Regions from separate parts of the Homo sapiens genome. Here region 1 is linked to region 2. The links come from fine-mapping of genetic effects on gene expression. Tissue or cell type: whole blood. Region 2 holds a variant in brackets; the other region holds the start of a gene. All regions are shown on one strand. Distances are from middle to middle.

Region 1 (12,847 bases), 29 kb after region 2:
AAATTTATTTTTTTGAGATGGTCTCACTCTATCGCCCAGGCTGGATTGTAGTGGCGTAATCACAACTCACTATAGCCCTGACCTCCAGGGCTCAAGTGATCCTCCTACCTCAGCCTCCCAAGTAGCTGGGACTACAGGAATGCATCACCACACCCAGCTGGTCTTTTCAATTTTTTAAAGAGAAGGGGGGTGTTGCCATCTTGCCCAGGGTGATCTTAAACTCCTGGGCTCAAGCGGTTCTCCTGTCTCAGCTCTCCAAGTGCTGGGACTACAGGCAAGAGCCACCATGCCCAGCATAATATTCTTAATTAAAGAATATCAAACATGTAGTTGGGGAGTTATCAAACAAAAAAATTAGGATTAACAGATATATCTGGCTGGCCACAGTGGCTCATGTCTGTAATACCAGCACTTTGGGAGGCTAAGGTGGGGGATCGCTTGAGCCCAGGTGTTCGAGACCAGCCTGGGCAACAAGGTGAGACCCCGTCTCTATAAAAAATACAAAAATTAGCTGGGTGTGGTGGCACATGCCTATAGTCCCAGCTACTTGGGAGGCTGAGGTGGGAGAACTGCTTGAGCCTGGGAAGCAGACAGAGGCTGCAGCGAGCCATGATCGCACCACTGCACTCCAGCCTGGGCAAGAGTATAATCCTGTCTCAAAAAAAAAAAAGAGAGATATATTTAAAAATCTTTTTCTTCAGTTCTTGATCCCAGTTTCTTGAGCAATAAAATGTAAAAAAGGTAAAAGGAATTTTACAAAACTGTTGCTAGTTCCAGAACAGTCTATGCGTTTCTGTAAGTCAATGGCTTGTCTGATGATCTGTAGCCATTCAGCTTTATTCACCAAATTGTACCACAACTGACAAACTAGGAGGATACCAGTTTCTTGCCGTTTCGGTTTATATACAATTCATTCTTAGGTGAACGAACAAATGTAAAGCACTTTGAAAAAAAAAATTCCTTTGCAAGTCAGTTACGCTGTGATGCTTTCTTCTAAGTTTGAACTATTTTAAAAGTATTTTCATACGATGAAATCTAAATATCTTCAGCAACTTGAGCAGGAAACACCAGACTCTAAATTAGGTATCAGGTCAGGACTAATAGCAAGCAGAGGAAAACAATCTGAATTCATCAAGTAGTAAGACAAGCTGGATTTTAAACCAGTTCTAACGTATTATGAAATCTGGCAGCAACTTCATAACATTAACTTTATATGTAAATTTCTCTTGAGCCTTTTTCTTCCTTTATTTTAGGACGCTATCAACTAAAATATTCCTGGAAACCACTGACTGTTTTTACATTAAAGATACCAACCACTTACCAGCATGGACTGCAGGATGCAAAGTTTTCACACGTCCCCCCAACATTTCAGGAAATCCCGTCAACTCAGAGACATCTCTGAAAAACAGATAAACAGAATGGTACTACTGGTGTGGCTGAATTGTAATTTTCACTATTCAAAGCATCTACTGTTTTCATTTCAAGAGATTTTGAGCCTGAATTCAACGTGAAAATTCTGATTTTTTAAAGTATTTCACTATATTTTATTTCTTAAGTAAAATTCTATTTACTTCCGAAAAAAAGTTTATTTAATTTATTTCCTAACTGTTGTGTATGTTCAGGGATAATTGGTAACTACTACAGCACTGGTTTTATAATTTTCAGAGCATTTAGAAACTGAATCATAAGCCATACTCATTAAATATTACTAAGACATACAACTGAGAATTTGGCAGTATGTAACAAAAAGCATTAAAAATATCCTTGGCCGGGCACGGTGGCTCATGGCTGTAAACCCAGCACTTTGGAAGGCTGAGGCAGGTGGATCACCTGAGGAGGGGAGTTTGAGACCAGCCTGGCCAACATGATGAAACCCCAGCTCTACTAAAAAAATACAAAAAATTAGCCGAGCGTGATGGCGGGCACCTGTAATCCCAGCTACTGGGGAGGCTGAGGCAGGAGAATCACTTGAACCCAAGAGTTGGAGGTCGCAGTGAGCCGAGATCATGCCACTGCACTCCAGCCTGGGCGACAGAGCAAGACTCCATCTCAAAAAACAACAACAACAACACATGAAGATGGCATATCAAGTGAGTGAAGACATAAAAGACTGTTTAATAAAGTGGTGTTGCTATTGGAATAACGGGTTAAACCCAAACAAAAATATATTCCTTATGAATCAAAGGTTTAGCATTTAAAAAATCATGCATGTAGCAAAATTAAATATGTGAGGAATGCTTTCCAAGTTTTAAACAAAAGATTGAGAGTTCTGATTACAGAAATGTTAAATAAAAAGTTTTACATGGGAAAAAAAAGTAAACTAGAAAAAATAATCACACAATGTGACAAAGGGTCAAGTGAAGGACAGTAAATATTAATCCATATCACAAAGCAGACCCCTAGAAAGTCGTAACCACGAACACTCTGGCAGACTTTATAAGTTGTAATGGTGTGTAAAAATGCCCACAATATATAAGAAAAAATAAAGCAGGGGCCAGGTGGGGTGGCTCACACCTGTAATCCCAGCACTTTGGGAGGCCAAGGCGAATGGATCACCTGAGGTAAGGGAGTTCCAGACCAGCCTGACCAACATGGTGAAACCCCGCCTCTACTAAAAATACAAAATTAGCCAGGCATGGTGGGGCATGCCTATAATCCCAGCTACTTGGGAGGCTGAGGCAGGAGAATCGCTTGAACCCGGGAGGCGGAGGTTGCAGTGAGCCAAGATTGTGCCACTGCATTTCAACCTGGGCAACAACAGCAAAACTCCGTCTCAAAAAATAAATAAATACATAAAAATAAATAAAGCAGGAAGCAAAACTGCATCTATCTTCTGTGTAAGCTATGAAATAAAGTACATGCTTATAAAAATGCTTGAAGAAAAATATACTAGCATGTTAAGAATTACAATCCATTTTTACTACCTTCTTTATAGTTGTCCATATTTTCGAATTTTCTACAATCAACATATATAGTTTTTGAGATGGGATCTCACTATGTTGCCCAGCCTGGAGTACAGTGATTATTCACAGGCAAGATTACAGTCCATGGCAGCCTAGAACTCCTGGGCTTATTAAGTAATCCTCCAAGTAGCTGAGACTATAATAAACACTTTAAAGCAGCAAGTTCTGCCAGTAAGATACGGAATTTCCTGGGTAGATTCTCCTGTTAAGGGGAGCCATTTGCAAATGACTGGTGTTTGACCAATGACACACACAGTTCCAACATCCACAAACTGGTGACATAAGTGTTTTCAAATTCAAAATTTCTTTTCCTGGGGTTCAGGAAATAAAATCCATTTCCTCCAAATGAAGACAGTCACTTAAAACTTAGAGAAGGCGGATTTATTTCTAGAATTAAACATTTGGGGTAATTAAAAAGCTTGCTACTCCTTTGAACTGAAGAATTTATACATAATGGCTGTAGTCTCGGGAAATAATTCTATGTATGCTCACTGCTGTATACTCACTAATTAAAATCCATCAGTTTACCTCATGACAAGGTAATGGTTAACTTCCTGGGATAAAATTATTGCAGATAACAACACCCAAAAATATGCTCAGAAGCAGCCTCAGAACCAAGATCTTTTTTTTTTTTTTTGAGACAGTGTTTCTCTCTGTCATCCAGGCTGGAGTGTAGTGGTGGAATCTCGGCTCACTGCAACCTCCACCTCCTGGGTTCAAGCAATTCTCCTGCCTCAGCCTCCTGAGTAGCTGGGATTACAGGTGCACGCCACCACACCCGGCTGATTCTTTTTTGTATTTTTAGCAGAGATGGAGTTGCACCATGTTGGCCAGGCTGGGCTCAAACTCCTGACCTCAGATGATCCAGCAGCCTCAGCCTCCCAAAGTGCTGGGATTACAGGGGTGAGCCACTGCGCCCAGCCAGAACCAAGACCTTGTCCAGGCATGGTGGATCACACTTGTAATCCCAGCACTTTGGGAGGCCAAGGCAGGCAAAATTGCTTAAGCCCTAGAGTTCAAGACCAGACAGACAACATGGTGAAACCATCTCTATGAAAAATACAAAAATTAGTTGGGCATGCTGGTGTGCAGCTGTAGTCCCAGATACTCAGGAGGCTGAGGTGGAAGGATTGCCTCAGCCTGGGAGATCGAGGCTGCAATTAGCCATGATTGTGCCACTGCACTCCAGCCTGGGTGACAGAGTAAAACCCTCTAAAAAAATATATATATATAGCTTTCTCCTGCCCTCTTGCCTCTCACCCTTCATTCTTCCCTGAAGTCACAGAAATGAGAATTTCTCTTCCCCAGGGCAGTTTACAGAAACTAAAACTCTTTTTCCCCAAAGCCAGTCATAAGATTTAAACTTATGATTCTAACTTTCCACTGGCTTTCTGTCTAGGAGCTGGACGTAAAGAAATCCTCTCATCTCCTTGCCCATTAGTAGGTCAGGAGATCCTTAGGGGGTGGAGAAAGAATTTTAGAGAAGCCAAGAAGAATCTGGACAGACAGGCTTTCCTGGCTTTCTCCACCTCAGTCTACTAGCATACACCATATCCTTGCTGTCCAATCATACTTCCACCTTTCTGTCCATTCTTTGTTGAACCTAAACATAAAAATGGATGGTTTTTCCTCTGTCTTTGGGTCTTCATTCTGAAGGCTCTCATGTCATGTAAAACTTTGTTAAATAAATTTGTTATGCTTTTCTCTTATTATAACCTGTCTTCTCTTATAAAAATATTGGCCGTGACGTTTACGATGGAGAGCAAAGGATCACACCTTTCCACCCCTACAAAATCTTGGCCTCGGGTGCGGTGGCTCACACCTGTAATCCCAGCAGGCCAAGGCGGGCGATCACTTGAGGTCAGGAGTTCGAGATCAGCCTGGCCAACATGGTGAAACTCTGTCTCTACCAAAAATACAAAAAAATTAGCCAGGCGTGGTGGCGGGCGCCTGTAATCCTAGCTACTTGGGAGGCTGAGGCAGGAGAATCGTTTGAACCTGGGAGGCAGAGGTTGCAGTGAGCTGAGACAGTGCCATTGCACTCCAGCCTGAGCAACAAGAGTGAAACTCTATCTCAGAGAAAAAAAAAAAAAATCTTGGCCTCTTAACTAGCTGTGTAATCTCGAGCGAGTTACTTAACTACGTTGTGCTTAATTTCCTCACCTATAAAATGAGGATAACACTACCTAAACTAAAAAGTTGTTATAAGGACTATAAGAGTTTATATATGTAAAATACCACTGCAACTGAATAAAATACCACTGCAACTGAATGTGGCCTTTGTTGAAGAAAAAACAATTGCTCCAAGTTGTTTACATTTCATTCAGTGAACTTTACTGTGCTGGGGTCTAAATAAATCACTCATGGTGAACTTCTTATCCTTTCATAGAAGAGAAACACATTTACATTTCCAGTTTTTAAAGAAGATATGACCATAATGAAGATAAGTGAGGAGTGGGTATAGGTACAGAAACAAGACTAATCAGTTGATAAGTACCTAAAGTGGGTGACAGATATAGGACCCAAGGGATCATTATACTTTTCTACTTTTGATTGTGTCTGAAATGTTTCCATAATACAAAGTTTGGTGGGGAAAAAAAAGAGACTACAGATGAGGATTTTGCTTTACGAAGGTTCCATTACCATAGGAGGACCCAACTTGGCCCAATGGAAAGCACGCAGGTCTGGACTTTGAATTCTCATTCGGTTGCTGATGAGCAAAGAGCCAACTTGCCTGCCACGATTCTCACAGGTTTCCCATGAAAACCACAGAGACAAGACGCAAAAAGACATCCGAAAATATACAGTTATGTATTTGTTAATAAAGTAAGGCATTCTTACCATCTGAACTTGTTAAACTTAGGGAAGCTGTGTACTGCTCACATAGCTGGGAACTGCACAAAGAAAAGGTAATAACCTACCTCTACATGGATCTAGAAACCAAGAAGCAAATTTTCCACATGGCAACAAAAAGCAGACAGATATCCTTCATCTCTTTCATTCTAAAATATGTTTCAGGGGTGGTCATCTCGTTCCTCCCAACTCTCACTGCCGTTTATTAAATAGCTATCCTATAGTTTTTTTCATTTTTCTACCTTTCAGTAGACTTCCTCCCTCTCCTCCCAGAATGCCACTCCTTGACATCAGCAATGGCATCCTGGTTAATCATTTCTAAGTCCCTTCTTTCCATGGCCTAGTCAGCTAATGAAGGGCTTGTGAACGTGGGAATGAATGATTTGCACCTTCATATGGTTACCAGAGATTCTAAGGGAAGGCAGGTAAATTGGAATCTTCATGATGTCGAGTTTTATTAAATCACCAGTCAAAGTAACTGAAGTTTTCCTTGCATAACAAGTGGCCCACCTAAGTTAATCTGTTTAAGGAAGGGGCTAAGACTAGTGTCCTAAAATCAGGAACAGCACGGGTTCCAATCCTACTTTTCCCTTACTCAACTGTTTAAACTTGTGCAGAAGATGCTAAATCTGTCCAGTGTGTTGTCCAGGGTCTTTCTCTGTCACCCAGGATGGAGTGCAGTAGTGCCATCTCGGCTCACCACAACCTCCGCCTCCTAGGTTCAAGCGATTCTCCTGCCTCAGCCTTCCCAGTAGCTGGGATTACAGGCGTGTGCCACCATACCGGCTAATTTTTGTATTTTTAGTAGAGACGGGTTTCACCATGTTGGCCAGGCTGGTCTCGAACTCTTGACCGTAAGTGATCAGCCCACCTCGGCCTCCCAAAGTGCTGGGATTACATGCGTGAGCCACCTAGCCCAGCCGTCCAGGGTCTTAAAAGTTGCTAAATCTCTCTGAGCCTCACTTTTTTTCCCCATAAAGTGGGGAAGTATTACACCAACCTCACAGCGCTACTGGGAGGAGTAAATAAGGCGTTTTGCTGCTGGTGCCTGGAATACAATACTTCCTGGTTAATGTGATCACACTCCTTTCTGATGGAACTAGCTATGCCTTACCTGACTGCCAGACCAGCATCCCTGAGAGCTTTTGCAGTCCCTCCGGAAGCGACCAGATTCAAACCAAGAGCGGTCAGGTTTCTTGCAAATTCCACAAGGCCGGTTTTGTCAGAGACACTAAATAAGGCTGAAAGAGAAGACATTTTTTCTCATGATTCGCAGCACATTGCACTGTGTTCTGCAAGGCCTTGGGAGGGTCTGGGGGAGGAGATTCTCGAATCGCAAGGCCAGCACCTGGACCCTGCGTTCGCAGGCCTGGTCCGGGCCTCCCCAGGTCTTACACCCGCGAGCTGCTCTAAGGCGGGCCCCACGCAGGCTGCGGCCCGGCCGGGGAGCGGGGACGCTGGCTTTCAATCCCGCAGCGCCGCCCCTGCAGTGCCGGGTCCCGCCGGCCGCCGCCAAGGCGGGAGCGTGGGGGGCCGCAGGCGAGGACGCAGACCGCGCCGCTCCGCTAGGGCCTCACCGAGCTGGCCGGGAGCCATGGCTGCAGGCACTGGGTTCAGGGCGAGCGGGAGGCAGCAGCGGCGGCACCACGTGCGCAGGTAGGAGGGCTGCCGGGATGTGGCGGCTCAGGAAGCGAGGGGGCGGAGCTGTTTCCGGGCTTATCACGTGGCCCGCCGGCCCTGCCCGGCGCCCTGCTCTGCTCAGTTTCAGATGCAAGATCCGCGCCCCGGGGCTGAAGGGAACGGCGGGATGGGGTGGGGCTCTGCCTGGCGCGCCTGGGCGGAGTGCTTGGGCTGGAAGGGATCCTGCCTGCGATCCCGAAGTCCAGGCGTGGGAGCCAGCGATCTGCCCACGACCCCAAAGTGAGGCCACTCCACGGCCTCTGGGGCAAATGCCTGTTATTCTAGGCAGCCGGTCCCCAGAAGCTGGAAAGTACGTAAAAGTGCCAGAAGCTCCCATGCTGAAAACTAAACAAAAGGAATAGTTCATATAGCGGCAAAGCTGGAAAGTATCTGGACAGTTATCTACCATCCTCCCTTTTTGTTTGTTGTTTTTTTGTTTTTCTGGGTTTTTTTGTTTTTTTTGTTTTTTTTTTTTTTTTTTGAGATGGAGTTTCGCTTTTGTTGCCCAGGCTGGAGTGCAATGGCGCGATCTCGGCTATGTCACGTGCAACCTGCAACCTCCACATCCCGGGTTCAAGAGTTTATCCTGCCTCAGCCTCCCGAGTAGCTGGAATTATAGGCAGGCGCCACGATGCCCGGCTAATTTTTGTATTTTTAGTAGACATGGGGTTTCGCCATGTTGGCCAAGCTGGTCTCAAACTCCTGACCTCAGGTGATCCGCCTGCCTCGGCTTCCCAAAGTGCTGGGATTACAGGGGTGAGCCACCATGCCCAACTTGTTTTTTGTTTGTTTGCTTGCTTGCTTGTTTGCTTGTTTGTTTTGAGACAGGGTCTCGCTCTGTCTCCCAGACTGGAGAGCAGTGGCACCATCTCAGCTCACTGCAACCTCTGCCTCCCAGGTTCAAGAAATTCTCCTGCCTCTGCCTCCACACCCGTCTAATTTTTTGTTGTTGTTGTACTTTTTTTTTTTTTTTTTTGTATATTTAGTAGAGATGGGGTTTCACGGTGTTGGCCAGGCCGGTCTTCAACTCCTGACCTCAAATGATCTGTCCACCTCAGCCTCCCAAAGTGCTGGGATTACAGGTGTGAGCCACCGTGCCCGGCCCCATCCTCCTTTTTAATAGGCTTAAAAAATAAAACCAAGGACCAATGATTTAAGTGAGGGACTCCAGAGGCCACAGATGACAGTCAAAACGAAGTGAAATTGACATTCGTTGTTGATTTTCACGTCATAAAATTATAATTTAAATATTAATTTATAATACTATTTTATACAATTTAGTCAGTATTGTAAAAGTGCCTAAAAACTACTTAAAGATGGTGTCTTCTTGCAAACCTGTAAATATTCCTGGATGAGAGGAATGATGACAGTCAAAAGAAGGTAAGAGAAGACCTTTCTTAATTCATTAAAAACAGGGAAAGCAAAATTGAACACATTTGTTTCTTTCTAAAAATGACACCTTTGCCACAAAATAAATACATATTGTGGTCTATGAGTCTTTTTTGTGTTATTAGAATTATATTCCAAAGTAATAGCATTGTTTATCTTTTAGTCTGAGCTCACAGCTGTAAAAATGAGTCTATTTTCTCATTATCTGCATGCTATTTATTTTTGTTTTTCCTCTTCCTTTCTCTAATTCTTCCCATCTCTTTACTCCCCAAAATAAATACCTATTGACTAGAATCAATTTTTTTTTTTTTTTTTGAGACAGAGTCTCGCTCTGTCACCCACACTCTCGCTCTGTCACCCACACTGGAGTGCAGTAGCGCGATCTCGGCTCACTGCAACCTCTGCCTCCCAGGTTCAAGCGATTCTCCTGCCTCAGCCTCCCGAGTATCTGGCACTACAGGCGCGTGCCACCATGCCTGGCTAATTTTTGTATTTTTAGTAGAGATGGGGTTTCGCCATGTTGGCCACGCTGGTCTCGAACTCCTGACCTCAGGTGATCCACCTGCCTTGGCCTCCCAAAGGGCTGGGATTGCAGGCGTGAGCCACCGCGTCCAGCCTGGAATCAATTTTTTGACCTCTAAATATGTTAGCCCTTTGCTCTGAACACTTCTCACATTCCTACGAGGAATATATTAAGATTATCGCATGTCTTCAGTGTGTTTGCCAAATTTGAATTTAAAAAGGATATTTCCTTGGCCAGTCACCATCAGGTTTTTACAGGAAATCGAAAGCAAGGAAAGGAGAAAACAATGCTGACATTTATTGATAAGGGGAAATAAACAGTTGCTTCGGCATTATGCATTTGTCTGTCATGTGAATTACAAATATTTATTCGATTCAATACATTTTTATTGAGCCTTTTCTGCTTGGATGGCAGAAACTCAGTGTCAGAAGACAGATAAATATCACCTAAGCACTGTCCTCAAGGAGCTCATGATGGAATGAAAATGTAGACACATGAAGTATAACTAAAAAATATTAATAGAGGCCGGGTGCGGTGGCTCACACTTGTAATCCCAGCACTTTGGGAGGTGGAGGCGGGCGGATCACGAGGTCAGGAGATCATGACCATCCTGGCTAACACAGTGAAACCCTGTCTGTACTAAAAATACAAAAAATTAGCCGGGCGTGGTGGTGGGCGCCTGTGGTCCCAGCTACTCGGGAGGCTGAGGCAGGAGAATGGTGTGAACCCGGGAGGCGGAGCTTGCGGTGACCGAGATTGCGCCACTGCACTCCAACCTGGGCGACAGAGCGAGACTCTGTGTCTCAAAAAATTAAATAAATAGGCTGGGCGCGGTGGCTCACGCCTGTAATCCCAGCACTTTGGGAGGCCAAGGCGGGCAGATCACGAGGTCAAGAGATCGAGACCATCCTGGTTAACACAATGAAACCCCATCTCTACTAAAAATACAAAAAATTAGCCAGGTGAGGTGGCGGGCGCCTGTAGTCCCAGCTATTTGGGAGGCTGAGGCAGGAGAATGGCATGAACCCCGGGGGGCGGAGCCTGCAGTAAGCCGAGATCGGGCCACTGCACTCCAGTCTGGGCGACAGCGAGACTCCATCTCAAAAAAAAAAAAAAAAGAAGAAAAAATTAAATAAATAAATAATAATAATAGAGAAAACACGGCATTAAACTGATTTTGTAGAGCCTCTTTCATTACAGACTCTTCCATTTACAGATGTTTACTCTGGGGCCTGGTGTAGTGTCTCATGCCTGTAATCCCAGTGCTTTGGGAGGCAGAGGTAGGAGAATCACTTGAGGCCAGGAGTTTGAGACCCACCTGGGCAACATAGTGCATGCCTGCAGTCCTAACTACTTGAGAGGCTGAGGTGGGAGTTCGAGGTTACAGTGAGCTAAGGTTGCACGGCTGCATTTCGGCCTGGGCTACAGAGCAAGACCCTGTCTCTTAAATAAAATAAAATAAAAAAATAACAGGCTAGGAGTGGTGGCTCACGTCTGTAATCCCAGCACTTGGGCAAGCTGAAGCAGGTGGATCACTTGAGGTTAGGAGTTTGAGACCAGCCTGGCCAACAGGTGAAACCCCGTCTCTACTAAAAATACAAAAAGTAAGTTGGGTACAGTGGCTCACGTCTGTAATCCTAACACTTTGGGAGGTCAAGGCGGGTGGATTGCCTGAGCTCAGGAGTTCAAGACCAGCCTAGACAACATAGTGAAACACCGTCTCTACTAAAAAAATACAAAAAATTAGCCAGGCATGGTGGCGGTGCCTGTAATCCCAGCTACTCGAAAGGCTGAGGTGGGAGAATCGCTTGAACCAGGAGGTAGAGGTTGCAGTGAGCCAAGATAGTGCCACTGCACTCAAGCCTGCACTATAGAGCGAGACTCTGTCTCAAAAAATAAAAATAAAGATATTTACTCTGATTAATTCTCCCATAGTTTTAGCATCCCGACTTGATAGGACTTAATATGTTAATGACAAAAAGAGTAAATGAATTTTTTACTAGCTTTGTGATCCTGGCCAAGTCACTCCATCTTTTGGGGACCTTTGTTGCTTTACCTGTAATATGGACATAATATTTTTTCTGCAGTCCTCATCATATTTTAAGAAGCGAATTAAGTACAGGTAGTCTACTGAAAGTACAAACTGCAAAGAGACTAAGAAGAGTAAAATAGAGGTGTAATCTTCTTGGTTCCCTTGGTCTGGCTAATCAGGTATCTTTCTGGGCACCAAGGTATGTCTTCAAAGATCTAGTCACCAGCAAGCTAGTGTCTTAGAAAAGGGAGATGTTCTCATAAAGATGAGAATGCATCTTTTACCAATGGTTTATCGCAGGATTATTGTTTCAGAAAGACAGAAAGGGCGTGTATACACTATAATGATTACATTTTCATTTCTTCTTACTTCACATACCTCCAAAGAGAAGCTTGAAGACCCTAAAATCATAGTAATATACCTTAAAATATTTAATGTACATGAATTGTTTCAGTTCTTTGAAGGTGTTATAATCTGATTTTGCCCCTATGTTGTTTGTTTCTTGTGTAAATTCATCACTTTTTTTTTTTTTTTTTTTGAGACGGAGTCTCGCTCTCACTCTGTCACCCAGGCTGGAGTGCAGTGAAGCAATCTTGGCTCACTGCAAGCTCCGCCTCCTGGGTTCACGCCATTCTCCTGCCTCAGCCTCCCAAGTAGCTGGGACTACAGGCACCCGCCACCACATCCGGCTAATTTTTTTTGTATTTTTAGTAGAGACAGGGTTTCACCATGTTAGCCAGGATGGTCTTGATCTCCTGACCTTGTGATTCGCACATTTCGGCCTCCCAAAGTGCTGGGATTACAGGTGTGAGTCACCGCGCCTGGCCAAGCTCATCACTTTCTTTGAAAAACCTCCATCTCCCTTCCAAGTCTTGGATCTCCTATTGGACTCTAACGATTAATAAAGCTGCATCATCTTGGGCTGACTTGCTCCAAGGGTTTGTCCACTCAAGTGGATGTAGTTTATCATATAAAGGGATTCCCAGGAGCTTGGTATAAAATTCCTCTCTACTGTAGTTCAGAACATTAAGCTAATTTATGACCTAGTATGAAATTCAAACATTTTTCTTGAAAGTCCTGGAGATGTTTGGAGATATAAAGCTGACAATAATACAAAGAATGAATTGGAATAGTAGGAAGTAGAGAAACTGGTTAGGAAGGTTTTGCATCCACTCACACATAAGAAGGTGGAAAAGAGGTTATCTATGTGAGACGATTCAAAATAGGTAAAATTAGCAGCATGCAGGGATCAGTGACATATAGGAAATATTAGACACAAAAAACTAGGGATGATTCCATCATTTCTAGCTTCGTCATATGAGTAGCTGGTGAGGCAACACCCAAAATATAAAAATATATGTAAGAGAAAGAACAGTTGTGGCATGTGTTTATTTTAATTTAAGGTCA
Region 2 (12,847 bases):
TGTTGGCCAGGAGGGTCTCAATCTCTTGACCTCATGATCCACTCACCTCGGCCTCCCAAAGTGCTGGGATTATAGGCATGAGCCACCGCGCCCGGCCAGGATTTCTTAATTGTAAATAATGACCATTATTTACATGGAAGTTCACATATCTAGAATCTCTTTGATGCTTTTAGAAATATTTTCATTAAGGAAAAAAAGTGATTCTAAGTTTACCAAATAAAGATAATACCATTTTACTTTCCAAATCAGTTTATTCCAAGTACATATGTAATTTTTTTTATTTTTGGCTAAGCTACTTACATAAAAATACACTGTTTTAAAATCTCTAATTTAAATCTACTTCGTATCTACTACTTTATGTCTATTAGACTACCGTCTAATTTAAATCTACTGCTTTGGTACTACTGTAGCAAAGAAAGCAAATAAAAATTGTGTTCCAAGGGTTTTCAAAAAAACCCTCTATATCCAATCTAGGAAAGAGATGAGTAGTTCTTTAACTACATTTATACAAAAATTATTCTAAATGTAAAGGCAGTTGTAGACAAAACACAATTCATAATATTTGCTATGGTTTGAGTGTGTGTATCCACTCCAAAATTCATGTTGAAACTTAATCCCCAATGCAACAGTATTAAGAAGTATAAGGCCTTTAGAAAGTTATTGGGCAATGAGGGTGGGGCCCTCATGAATGGATTACAGACTTATAAAAGGGCTTCAGGGGAAGTATGCCCCTTCTGTGAAGTAAGGACACAGTGTTTGTCCTTTCCAGAGAGGGCTGTGCCATCTGGGAAGCAGAGGGTAGGCCTCCCCAGACTCTCAGCCCACCAGTACCTTGATCTGGGACTTCACAGCCTCCAGAACTATGAAAAATAAATGTCTATGGTTTATAAGTTACCCAGCCTGCAGTATTGTGTCATAGTGGCACAGACAGTTAATCATATTTTACAAGGTGCTTCTATCTTGGGTCATGTTTTAGCTTTGACATACTTTTATTCTTGTTCACTTCCAGGACTCTTTCAGGACTAGTAGCAGGGGTTGACTGGTAATATCAAACAGAAAAATCCAAGTATCAAAGTTGAAAAAAAAAAGATATCTTAAGGACTTCAGTTACATTCTGCAGCCTCACTCTTCAATGACACTTATGTTGATTCCTGCTCCTGAATAAAAAACTGAGGGTAGTCAATTGGCTCTTCAGAAGACCATCTAGTATTTGATTAGCAGCCTTCTGTTTTCCATCCAGCATTTTGTTAGGCACGCAATATGTCCAGAAACTGGGCTAGATCTTTTCTTCTGGCGGGCTACCTACCTAACGTTTGCGATTGTAATGTTCCCACATACCTTCTTCAAACAGAAGAACATGAAATGTAACAAAATGTATCAAGTTATTAATGGCACATGTAGAAAATGTGGTGGGAGAAGACCCCAGGGTTACCTGCCGTCAGGCAATTTGTATTTAATGTTGAATACAGACCCATCGGACAGCAAGCACCATGCATGACGTGGTGGCAGGCACCTCGACGTAGGTGAAAAGCAGTCCTTGTCATCAAAAGCTTATAATCAACAGGGGAAGTACAAATATACAAACCTACACCAAGGCTGCAATTTAAAAAGACAGAGGACTGTGGTTTCAGAAAGGGGTCAAAAACAATGAAGAAAGTTACATGAGACAGAAGAACATGAGAAATGTGTAAGAAGTTTCAATGATCAATTTTAGACAACATAGAATTTCAATGAAAGTATCTTTTTCTCTGTGTGGTGATGAAGTTAAAATCTGTTACACATAAAGGGTTGAACTGAATATTAACACAGCCGAGAACCCAATGCCAAGTCTTTCACCTCGCCAATGGTTCCAGTCACATATTGATCGATGGCATTGGAGATTTCTGCTCTCTTCACTCCTGTTTTAAACTTCATCGAAAGCACTTGTGGATGGTGTCTAAGCCACCAATAGTTTGCCTTATCTCCTGCAAGGCGAGTGCAGTGTATACGAGACTGCTGTCCTGCTCCAATGCCGATAACCTGAGGAACACAGACATTAAAGTGAACACCTCTTCCAAAGACACTTTCTTCTCAAAAGGATCTTTTGTGCACATTCTCCAAAACCTATTTATTAGTTTTGTGGAAGAACATATCAGGCCAAAATAAGAGAAATATAAATAATTTTTAAGTCATTAAAAGGGGTGGAGTAAGAGGTTTGTTTATAACTACTATTTATACCTCTTCAGTGATATGTGACATATGACTATTAATAATCTACAATTCAATAAAATTGATGGTTTGAGGTCAAAAAAAAAAAAAAGTTAAAATAAATGACCAATGCTGGGTGCACTGGCTCATGCCTGTAATCCCAGCACTTTGTGAGGTTAGGACAGAAGGATTGCTTGAGCTCAGGAGACCAGCCTGGGCAAGATGGCAACATCTCATCTCTACAAAAAATAAGAATTAAAAAATAGCTAGGGGTAGTGGCGCACACCTGCAGTCCCAGCTACTCAGGAGGCTGAAGTGGTAGGACCGCTTGAGGCCAGGAGTCGAAGGCTACAATGAGCTATGATCATGTCACTGTACTCTGGCCTGGGCAACAGAGCAAGACCCTGTCTCTATAAAAAATAAATAAATAAATAAATAAAACTAATGACCACAAAAATAACTATGGTTACTTGAAAGTCTTTTGTTTGCCCCAGTGTATAAATTACAGTTAAAATATCAACTCTCAGAAATTGAGATAAGGATCTGACATGGGTAGCTAAAAGTAGAAACAATTCCGCCAGGTACAAATGTTCTTCCTTCTTTCCTCTATTTCTATGGGTTGAATTCTAAGCAACAAGGACTTAAATGCACAGGTGTGTTTTCTGGTTTTAGTTCCTATAATGAACAGCCCCTAAGCTGTCTGCCCAACAGTCCATCTCTTTCTGAGCACAGCTGCTGGCAACCCTGCCCACAGCTACAAGAGAATAAAAGAGACCACAAATACCTGGGCAGCCGCCTCCTCCTCAACATCAGGAATGAAGCACTCATTCTACATGGACTTACAGAACTTCTTAGAACCTGACACCAGTAGACACAATCTCCCAGGAGTTTGTTACTACAGAGACTGGCAATCTGGGGTCTTCCAGGCCATAGGCTAATTCATATCCACCCACCTCCCTGTCACTTGTGGGCCAAATAATTTAACAAATGCCAAGAGATAAGCTCAGGACACCAGGTGAAGAAAAGGCTAGCAGAGACCTCAGAGATGAACCAGCTCCATCTTGTATTCTGAGGCTCGGGACACTAGGAAAGAAGTGTAATATCTTGCTTAACGTCACACAGTGAGAAATGTTTGGTATTTAATTGTGGCAGCGGTCACATACTGTGAAATTTGTGAAAACTGGTCAAACTGTACTTTAAAAAGGTGAATTCTACTGTATACAAATTATGCCTCAATGAACCTAACTTTTTAAAGATGAAGTTAACTCCTAGTCTAGCAGTCTTTCTACTCAGCAGATTCTTGATAAGACAACATAAGAAATAATGTGAAAATACCCTGCAGGCTGCAAAAATATAGGCTGGTGGGTGGCAGTACCGTAACTTACCTCCTCTTCCCTGGAAATAATACCAATGGGGGAAAAGGAAAGGAAATAATCCAGTTTTGTAACAGCTATTAGAGTCTCACTAATCCAAAATGTGCCAACCTATTCAAGGCAAGAAGCAGCACAACTACTTTGAGTACCTGGTTCCAAAGATATTTTCTGATCATCATTAGTTTTAACAGCCCACCAGGGTACTGAGGAAACACTGACAAACACAAAAGACAAACATTTGGCAAATATTCCCTTTCAAGCTGTCCAATATCTAAGGCAGACGGATGTTTAAATATCATTTCGTAAAACAACAGTCCCCCGAAGGCGAGTCCAACAGCCCACTTACCTGCCCGTTCTTGGCGTAGCACACAGAGTTAGACTGAGTGTACTTGACAGCAATGGTGGCTACGATGAGGTCTCGGAGGGCAGACTCTGGCAACTGAAACACATACACAATGGTAAATTGCATGGGGCCTTTTAAACTCATTTAACTTTAAGCTTCTTTTTTTAAATATTATTTTTTGTGGTTTTTTTGAGTCAGAGTCTCACTCTGTCTCCCAGGCACAATGGGACAATCTCCAACGGCACAATCTCGGCTCACTGTAACCTCCACCTCCCGGGTGCAAGAGATTCTCACACTTCAATTACAGGCGCATGCACCACCATGCCTGGCTAATTTTTGTATTTTTAGTAGAGATGGGGTTTCACCATGTTGGCCAGGCTGGTCTCGAACTCCTGAGCTCAAGTCATCTACGTGCCTCAGCCTCCCAGAGTGCCAGGATTACAACAGGTGTGAGCCACCACACCTGGCCAACTTTAAGTTTCTTAGTTCTATTTAATGTAAAAGACCTACAACATAGTTATACCACTCAAATGACAGAGGGAAATTAACTGTTCTCCTACACACTACCATGATTTACTTAAATATTTAACACATTTGGGGTGGAACTTAGCACAATGCATCCATAGACACAAACTCATGTTATTTTGTAGCAATTGTGGATTAAGCCTTTTTATATCACATGAGGTAAGAACTACCATATCCATTCCAAAACTGACAAACAATATTTTCTTGACCAGAGTACTTTTAAATATCTGGAGACATGGTAAAATTTACGTTCAGAACCAATGCGGAGAATTGTTTCATAGACATCACAAATCGTTATGATGCACACAGACAGCCAAGACTTTGGAAAAATCAAATTACGATCATTTTCTCTTTTGTTTAGAATAACTTAAGTTGAAACTGTTCAAAAACCATTAGGAATTACCAGTCCAAATAGAACAACAAGAATAACGCCCAAAAATATCACTATCTTTAGTATCAGGCATGAATACAAATGGAAAAGAAGGATGATAGTCCACGTCTGTATGCTAAATGGACAGAGGATATTTGCTACAGCCAACAGATAAGTTGATAAATTTGACTTCAGTAAAATTAAGAACTTTTCCTCTGTAAAAGATTCCTCATTAAAGAGGATGAAAAGACAAGCTACGAACTAGGAGAAAATTATTAACAAACCTCATATCCAACAACAAACTAGCACCTAAAACATAAAAAAACTTTAAAAACTCTGTAACAGGACAGGCGCAGTGGCACATGCCTGTAATCCTAGCACTTTGGGAGGCCAAGGCGGGTGGACCACCTGAGGTCAGAAGTTCCAGGCCAGCCTGACCAACATGGTGAACCCCATCTCTACTAAAAATATAAAAATTTGCCAGGTGTGGTGGCGCATTCCTGTAATCCCAGCTACTTGGGAAGCTGAGACAGGAGAACCACTTGAACCCGGGTGGTGGAGGCTGCAGTGAGACAAGATCATGCCACTGCACTCCAGTCTAGGTGACAGAGCGAGACTTCATCTCAAAACAAAACAAAAAAACTCAGTAACAATCAAAAATTTAATTAGAAAATGGGCAAAAGACAGACATTTTCACCAAAAAGGATACACATGTAGCAAATAAGTACACAAAAAAATGTTCAACATCATGAGCTATTATGCAAATTAAAATCAGTGAGAGATTGCTACACAACTATCCCATGTCTTTAAAAAAAAAAAAAAAGTAGCAATACCAAAAGCTAGTAAGGATGCAGAGACATTGGATCACTCATCCATTGCTGGTGGGAATACAAAATGGTACAAGCCACTCTGGAAAACAATTCAGCAGTTTCTTAGTAAACTAAACATGCAACTACCATACCACAAAGCAGTTAACAACCCTGGGCATTTATCAAAGAGAAATAAAAACTTACGTTTAGGCTGGGCACAGTGGCTCATGCCTGTAATCCCAGGCGGGTAGATCACCTGAGTCAGGAGTTCAAGACCAGCCTGACCAACATGGTGAAACCCCGTCTCTACTGAAAATACAAAGATTAGCCAGGTGTGGTGCCGCATGCCTGTAATCCCAGCTCCCTGGGAGGCTGAGGCAGGAGAATCGCTTGAACCCGGGAGGCGGAGATTGCAGTGAGCCAAGACCGAGCCATTGCACTCCAGCCTGGACAACAGAGTTGGACCCTGTTTCCCCAAAAGACAAAAACCTTATGCTCACACAAACACACAAAAACTGTACATGAATGCACGATGAATGAAAATTATAGAAAGGAAAAACAGATTTGTGGTTGCCCAAGGGTAAGGAGAGGGTGGAAGCCATATCAAGTGAGCCCGGCTACAGAAGAACATGAGGGATCACTGCAGTGTTGGAAATGCCCTGTGTCTT[C/T]AACTGTTATCAATGTCAATGGCATGGTTGTGGAACTGTACTGTAGTGTGACAAATGCTAGCATTAGGAGAAATAGGGTAACGGTTACATGGGAACTCTTACAACTGTATATGAATCTACAACTTTTATCTCAAAATTAAAAAGTTTAATTTAAAAAAAGCTATTAGGATTTCTTAAGAATTTATTACTCTAAGGTATTATTAATGTTATATATCTTTTATCTTTATCTGCTATTTGAGTCATCAACTATAAATCTGATTCCTCTGGTTCCCAGAAAACTTAGTAGCAAAAGCCAGCTTCATAGATGTCTAGACCTTCAAAGATAATCTTGGTGATACGGTTTGGCTGTGTCCCCACCTAAATCTCACCCTGAATTATAATAATCCCCATGTGTCAACAGGCAGGACTAGGTGGAGGTAACTGGATCATGGGGGCAGTTTCCCCCATGTAGTTCTCATGACAATGAATGAGTCTCATGAGATCTGACAGTAAGCGTCTGGCATTTCTCTCGCTTGCACTCATTCCCTCTCCTGCCGCCCTCTGAAGAGGTGCCTTCTGCCATGATTATAAGATTCCTGAGGCCTCCCCAACCGTGTGGAACTGTGAGTCAATTAAACCTCTTTTCTTTATAAATTGCCCAGTCTCAGGAATTTCTTCATAGCAGCGTGATAAAAACTAATACACTTGGCATCCTGGGTTGGGATCAAGGCATACGAGAAATGCCAGTGGACTGGGAGTAAGGGAATCCAGTCTTAGAAACATGCTACAAATAGTTAACACAATTAAAGCACTATTCAAGAAAAATGGGAGAAGAGGAAATAATTCAAACATGTTCAGTATTAATAAACATTCCATCCACCTGTCTGGCTCTCTCAGGACTGAAATGGTTCCAGACCTAATAATTCTGAGGCTGGAATGTTAACAAAAATCCACTTAAAAAGACGGGTAAAACAGAAAGGAGAACAAAGCTATCATTCTCTCATCCTTAAGTTTCCAAATTTCTACTAAGAATTCATATGAAGCAAGGAAAGAGTTTAGATAAACGATTAAGATCATACCTACCACTCTTATAAAAAATATCCAGAGGCACAAAACCTATCAAGATCACTAAATTATTAATGAATCCAATATCTACAAACCTTAGAAAAAAGACTCTCAGTAGCTAGGCACAATTCTCAACATGGTACCATGGAATCTAGGTCAATATCCATTCAGTATTTTTCAAAGTACATGAACCAACCAGAGTGGATTCCAAAGGGCTGAAAGATATTTCTATGTATAATGCCTACATGTTTCTTTACTTCAGGACACCATTAATTGTCAAAGATAGAAATGAAAGAATATCCATTAAATCAAACAAAAAAGATATGTTAATCGTCGTATGCTTATCAACAGACAGAACTCTCTGGATAAAGATTTTAAGGCTTATTTCCAGCAATTCTACTGAAAAGGCCTCAGGATTCAGACCTGGGAGCAAGCTGCAGCCCCTCATCTCCTTCTGTTACAGCAAATAGCTTAAGAGACCAATCCTCTTTTAGTAACAAACAGAAATGCTGGGCAGAGCGGACAGACAGCAAGTGCTAACAGACAAAGATCCCAGAGAAAATGGAAGCAGTAAGAAATGGGCCTGACAGTCTATGCTTTTCTCCTCAAGGCATTTTCCAAGTTGCATGCAATAAACTAAAGGTAAATTGGCTGAGCACAACTTTTGGCAGTCTTAGAGGACTAAGGGACAAAAGCCGAGTTCAGCGTACAGCAGTAGATACCTAGGGATTCAGGAGCAGGAATGAACCATGAACAGACCAGTCCTCACAAAGACTGAAGGCTAAATTCCTATTTAGCCTTTAGGAAGCTCAACAATTCCTGACAGAATGAAGATACCTCCTACACCTTATCTGCCCAAAAGAAGGACAAGTCAACTCTGGAGAGAAAAATAACACCATCCAGCCCTCAAAATATCGCTACAGTTTTTTCATACCCAATGCCTAGCACTCAATAAAAAATTCCAGGCTATCAGCCAGACAGACCAGAAAGCAATGGAATGATTCCTGCAAAGTACTGAACAACAAGCACAGCCTACTTTAGACCTAGGACAAACATCCTTCAAACTGAAGGCCCAATTAAGATACTCCAAAAAATAAATGTCAGCTTGTCCATTCTTTATTGTGTAACTCCGGTCAAATTTCTTAATTGTCCTTTATGGTACAATTTTGTGATCTTCACAATTGACACGATGGTAGTCACCCCCATAGAGTGACCTAAGTGTTAAATGAGATAATATATCCAAAACACAAAAATCACCATTATTATCCTAGGAACGTGTCCTTACTACAAGGTAACAAAGAGCACAAGCCCAAAAACTTGTCTATATAAAAACATTGATCATAGCACTGAAAATGTAAGCAATCTAAATATCCATCAGAAGATCCACGTTGCAGTGAGCTATGATCGCACCACTGCACTCCAGCCTGGGCAACAGAGCAAGCTTCAAAGGAATAAAAACATTCAAACAGAGCGAGCTTCAAAGGGATAAAAACATTCAAAAGTCTCTTAAAAAAAATAATAAAGGCTGGGCATGGTGGCTCACGCCTGTAACCCCAGCACTTTGGGAGGCTGAGGTGGGCAGATCACGAGGTTAGGAGATCGAGACCATCCTGGCTAACACAGTGAAACACCGTCTCTACTAAAAATACAAAAAAAATTAGCCAGGCGTTGTGGCGGGCGCCTGTAGTCCCAGCTACTTGGGAGGCTGAAGCAGGAGAATGGCGTGAACCCGGGAGGCGGAGCTTGCAGTGACCCGAGATCGCACCACTGCACTCCAGCCTGGGTGACAGAGCAAGACTCTGTCTCAGAAAAAATAAAATAAAAAAATAAATCAATCAATCAGGGTAAAAATAAGAACAATAAATATCCATCGTAGTACATCTACACATGGACTGACTGCCACATGGACTTTCAGATAAAGATATGAATATGCATTTATTTTCGAGATAGGATCTTGTTCTGTCACCCAGAGAGGAGTGCAGTGGCACAAACACGGCTCACTGCAGCCTTGATCTCCCAGACTCATGCAATCCTCTCACCTCAGCCTCTCGAGTAGCTGGACCTACAGGCGCAGCTACCACGCCAGGCTAATTTTTGTACTTTTTCTAGAGACAAGGTTTCACTACATGGTCAGGCTGGTCTTAAACTCCTGACCTCAAGAGAGCTGCCCCTTGGCCTACCAAAGTGTTGGGATTACAAATGTCAGCTACTGCACCCAGCATCTATATGTATTGATATAAAAACACATTTGTAGCCTAGCACATGGAAAAAAGCCAAGTTACAGGAGTCAGATTATGGAAGACATGATCCCATTTATACACAATTAAAGCTACTTATCTCTAGTGTGTACATATGCACAGAAGCTTCTAACATGGCCTTTGATTCATTTCTTAAACTCCAAAGCTTATGTGACAACTCAAAGATAAGCTAGCTAGCCGTGTGCATACAGACCAGTTCCAAATCCAGACCTTAATAAATGTAAAGCTCATTAAGTATTGAAAACAGACCAATGGAAGTTACTAGCAGTCAGTTCAGATACTTCCCAACTTACATCTTTATTTTTGGTAACAACATTGCTAAATAATGACTTGTCGACGACACCATTATTTCTCTTCTGGCTTAAATGAAGACCAAAGAGAGTTCGAACTTCATTTTCATCTGGTTTGTAAGATTGGTCCATCTAAAATACAAATTTTAAAAGTTAAAGTTAATCTCTCCACTTCCCTCAAATTTTTCATTTAATTTATATACAAAAGATTTCATTGTAAGTAAAGTTATATGCATGTTTCTAATTTTTTACAGTTTTCTAATTTTCTAATTTTTCTCACACAACAAATGATGTGTTAAATCATTCTGGTATGATACAATTCAACATTCTGGTATGATACAACAGCCAGGCGCTAATATTTTTCTCCAAAGTCTTTTATAGATTTTACTACCCAATAGTATTTTATAGATTTTACAACCTATATACAACATGTTAAAAAACAATGATTCCAGTGAGTGTATTTTTGGTTAAGTTACTACCTATATGGTTCTTTTGGAAGGTCAGCAGATAAAACAGATGTGCTAATTAAATAAGCAATGGCACAAAAATTAAATTCTAATTTTCCTTTCTAAAAATCTGTTACAAAATACCCAGCTAACCCAGGAATTGAAAGCTAAAAGTGAGAAAACAGGATTTGTAATCTGTGTCTTTGCTATTTGGAAGGAATTTGTATCATTTACTGCCATCTTCCTCTCCCAAATTTTGAGCCGAAAGAACATTAAGGTGTGTGGAACAATACGTGTAACACTACTCTCTCCCTGGATATTTTTTTAAACTTGACACTATTTCTTCTTTATGCTTTGGATGATCTTTGATTTAGAAAGCCCTGACATATAATTTATAAGCAAGACCCCGTAAATATTAGTTCTGTTTAATCTACATTTTCTTGAATTCTAAAATGTTCCTTTGTATTATGCACTATAAAATTTCTAAAATTGATATGCTCTCCTATTAACTGATGCTAGGAGAAACTTATCATTAGTCAGGTAGAGGGATAAGTTGTCTCATGCTTATAATCATGCGTCCAATGTGCAAACTAAGCCAAATTCTCAAATAAGTAAAATACCAATGAAGTCCTGATATTCCTTTGACACTCTCCAACTATCAGGTGTTAAAGAGATCAAGAAAATGACTCAGGTTTTGGAAAATATTTTCCATGATGCTACAAGAAAATGCTAATGGTTGTTAAGTACATAACACTCTTAACAACAACAACAAAAAAAAAACTTGATTAAGAAACTGGGGGCCAGGCGCGGTGGCTCACGCCTGTAATCCCAACACTTTGGGAGGCCGAGGCGGGCAGATCCCTTGAGGTCAGGAGTTTGAGACCAGCCTGGCCAACATGGTGAAACCCTGTCTCTACTAAAAATACAAAACTCAGCCAGGCCTGGTAGTACATGCCTGTAGTCCCAGGTACTTGGGAGGGTGAGGCAGGAAAATCGCTTGAACTCAGGAGGCAGAGGTTGCAGTGAGCCAAGATCACACCACTGCACTCTAGCCTGGGCAACAGACTGTCAAGTGGCTAAAAAAAAATAAGTATTAACTTTAATGTGGTATTCTCTTCTTTCCTTAAATAGCTGACATGGAATCTATGGTGAACTATAAAATTATTGGTATCTTACAATCAAAAGAATATACTTAATAACTTTCCTTGTAAGGAATTAGGATTCCACAGAGTTCTGATATCAATACTATGAAAAGTAGCATTAGGAATTTTTACTTTAAATTGAAATAACTCTTTGCTTTATCAATGCATAATCTTAGACCATGAGCTACTTTTCCCAATACAGAAGAGCTCATAAAAATCAGTTAAAAAAAAAAAAAAAGCCAACAACAACTTAGTAGAAAAATCATCAAAGAATATGGAAAGACAGTTCATAGAAAGGAATAAAAACATTCAAACATGAAAAGATGCTCATACCACACACAATGTTAAAACTACATTGAGATGCCATTTTCTAACTGCAGAGACTTTTTAAAAGTATAAAACCACAATGCTGACAAAAGTGTTGGGAAACAGGCATCCTTATATATTTCAGTTAGGACAATGAATTTGCCTACAACATCTAAAAGGGGCAGTATCAATTAAGATTACCAATATACATAGAGCTTGTTATTAAGCCTTAATTTCACTCTCAGGACTTTTCTAGGTTATTCACTGCAGGGGTATTTGTAGTAGCTAAAGATTGGTGACTGTCTAGGTAAGTTAAAATACACAGATACAGGACAAACTTCCAAGAAGGTGAAGCAGGGTGCACTTGTGTCAATAGGAAAATAGAAAAAGAAATGCACATGCAAATATTTGCTGAATACATAGACTATTTCAGGAAAGATAAGCAAGAAATTTAAAATAGTTATCTTTTCAAAAGGTAACAGAAGGATGGAGAGACTTTCCATTAAATATTGTTACTATTATTAGTATTTTAGAGACATGGTCTTACTACACTGCCAAGGCTGGAGTGCAGTCGTTATTCACAGGCATCATAGTACCACAATACAGCCTCCAATTCTTGGCCTCAAGCCATCCTCCCACATCAGCCTCTCAAGTGGCTGAAATTATAGGCATGAGCCATCACAACCAGCAAAAAGTTAAAATTGAGGGTAAGAAAGCTACTCTCATCTCAAAACCCCAAGTTAATAGTATTTTTTTAAATGCAGGATTGGGGAAAATAAACTATAATAAGGATAAACTAGAAGGGTATGAGTATAAAGGAAAGAGTAAACAAGGGAGAAAGAGACACAGAATAAAAGAGCAAATTACCGCTTCAAACATGAATTGCACTCACCTGAAGGACACAATAGTTTCCATTTTTCTTTTTGGAAAGTATTGTCAAGGCTTCTTCTTCATATCCTGGGGCAATTATACCATCAGATACCTGCAAAAATATTAAATTTTAATTTCTATTTTTAAAAATCAGAGAACACCTCTTAAAAAAATCTAGCAGCAATTATCAGTCTTAAATAATGTGGCAGCATATTC

Evidence for each region.
Region 1: it holds the start of ATIC, and the variant in region 2 is fine-mapped to the expression of ATIC in whole blood (TOPMed, PIP above 0.99).

Annotation. Positions count from the first base shown.
Region 1 is chr2:215,306,708-215,319,554 of GRCh38, reverse strand. ATIC (5-aminoimidazole-4-carboxamide ribonucleotide formyltransferase/IMP cyclohydrolase) reads right to left here and starts at 7,496. Exons shown (of 16, transcript NM_004044.7): 1 at 7,394-7,496; 2 at 6,931-7,057; 3 at 1,322-1,398. The coding sequence starts at 7,412. LOC124907975 (a long non-coding RNA gene) reads left to right here and starts at 7,583. Exons shown (of 2, transcript XR_007088075.1): 1 at 7,583-8,876. RefSeq lists silencers at 7,152-7,521, 7,532-7,611 and an enhancer at 7,142-7,792.
Region 2 is chr2:215,335,931-215,348,777 of GRCh38, reverse strand. ATIC (5-aminoimidazole-4-carboxamide ribonucleotide formyltransferase/IMP cyclohydrolase) reads right to left here. Exons shown (of 16, transcript NM_004044.7): 11 at 12,654-12,743; 12 at 9,871-9,999; 13 at 3,907-3,999; 14 at 1,837-2,019. Among named protein-coding and RNA genes, the nearest start is that of ATIC, 30 kb to the right of the region's middle. The variant C/T (reference allele first, on the strand shown) is at 6,276.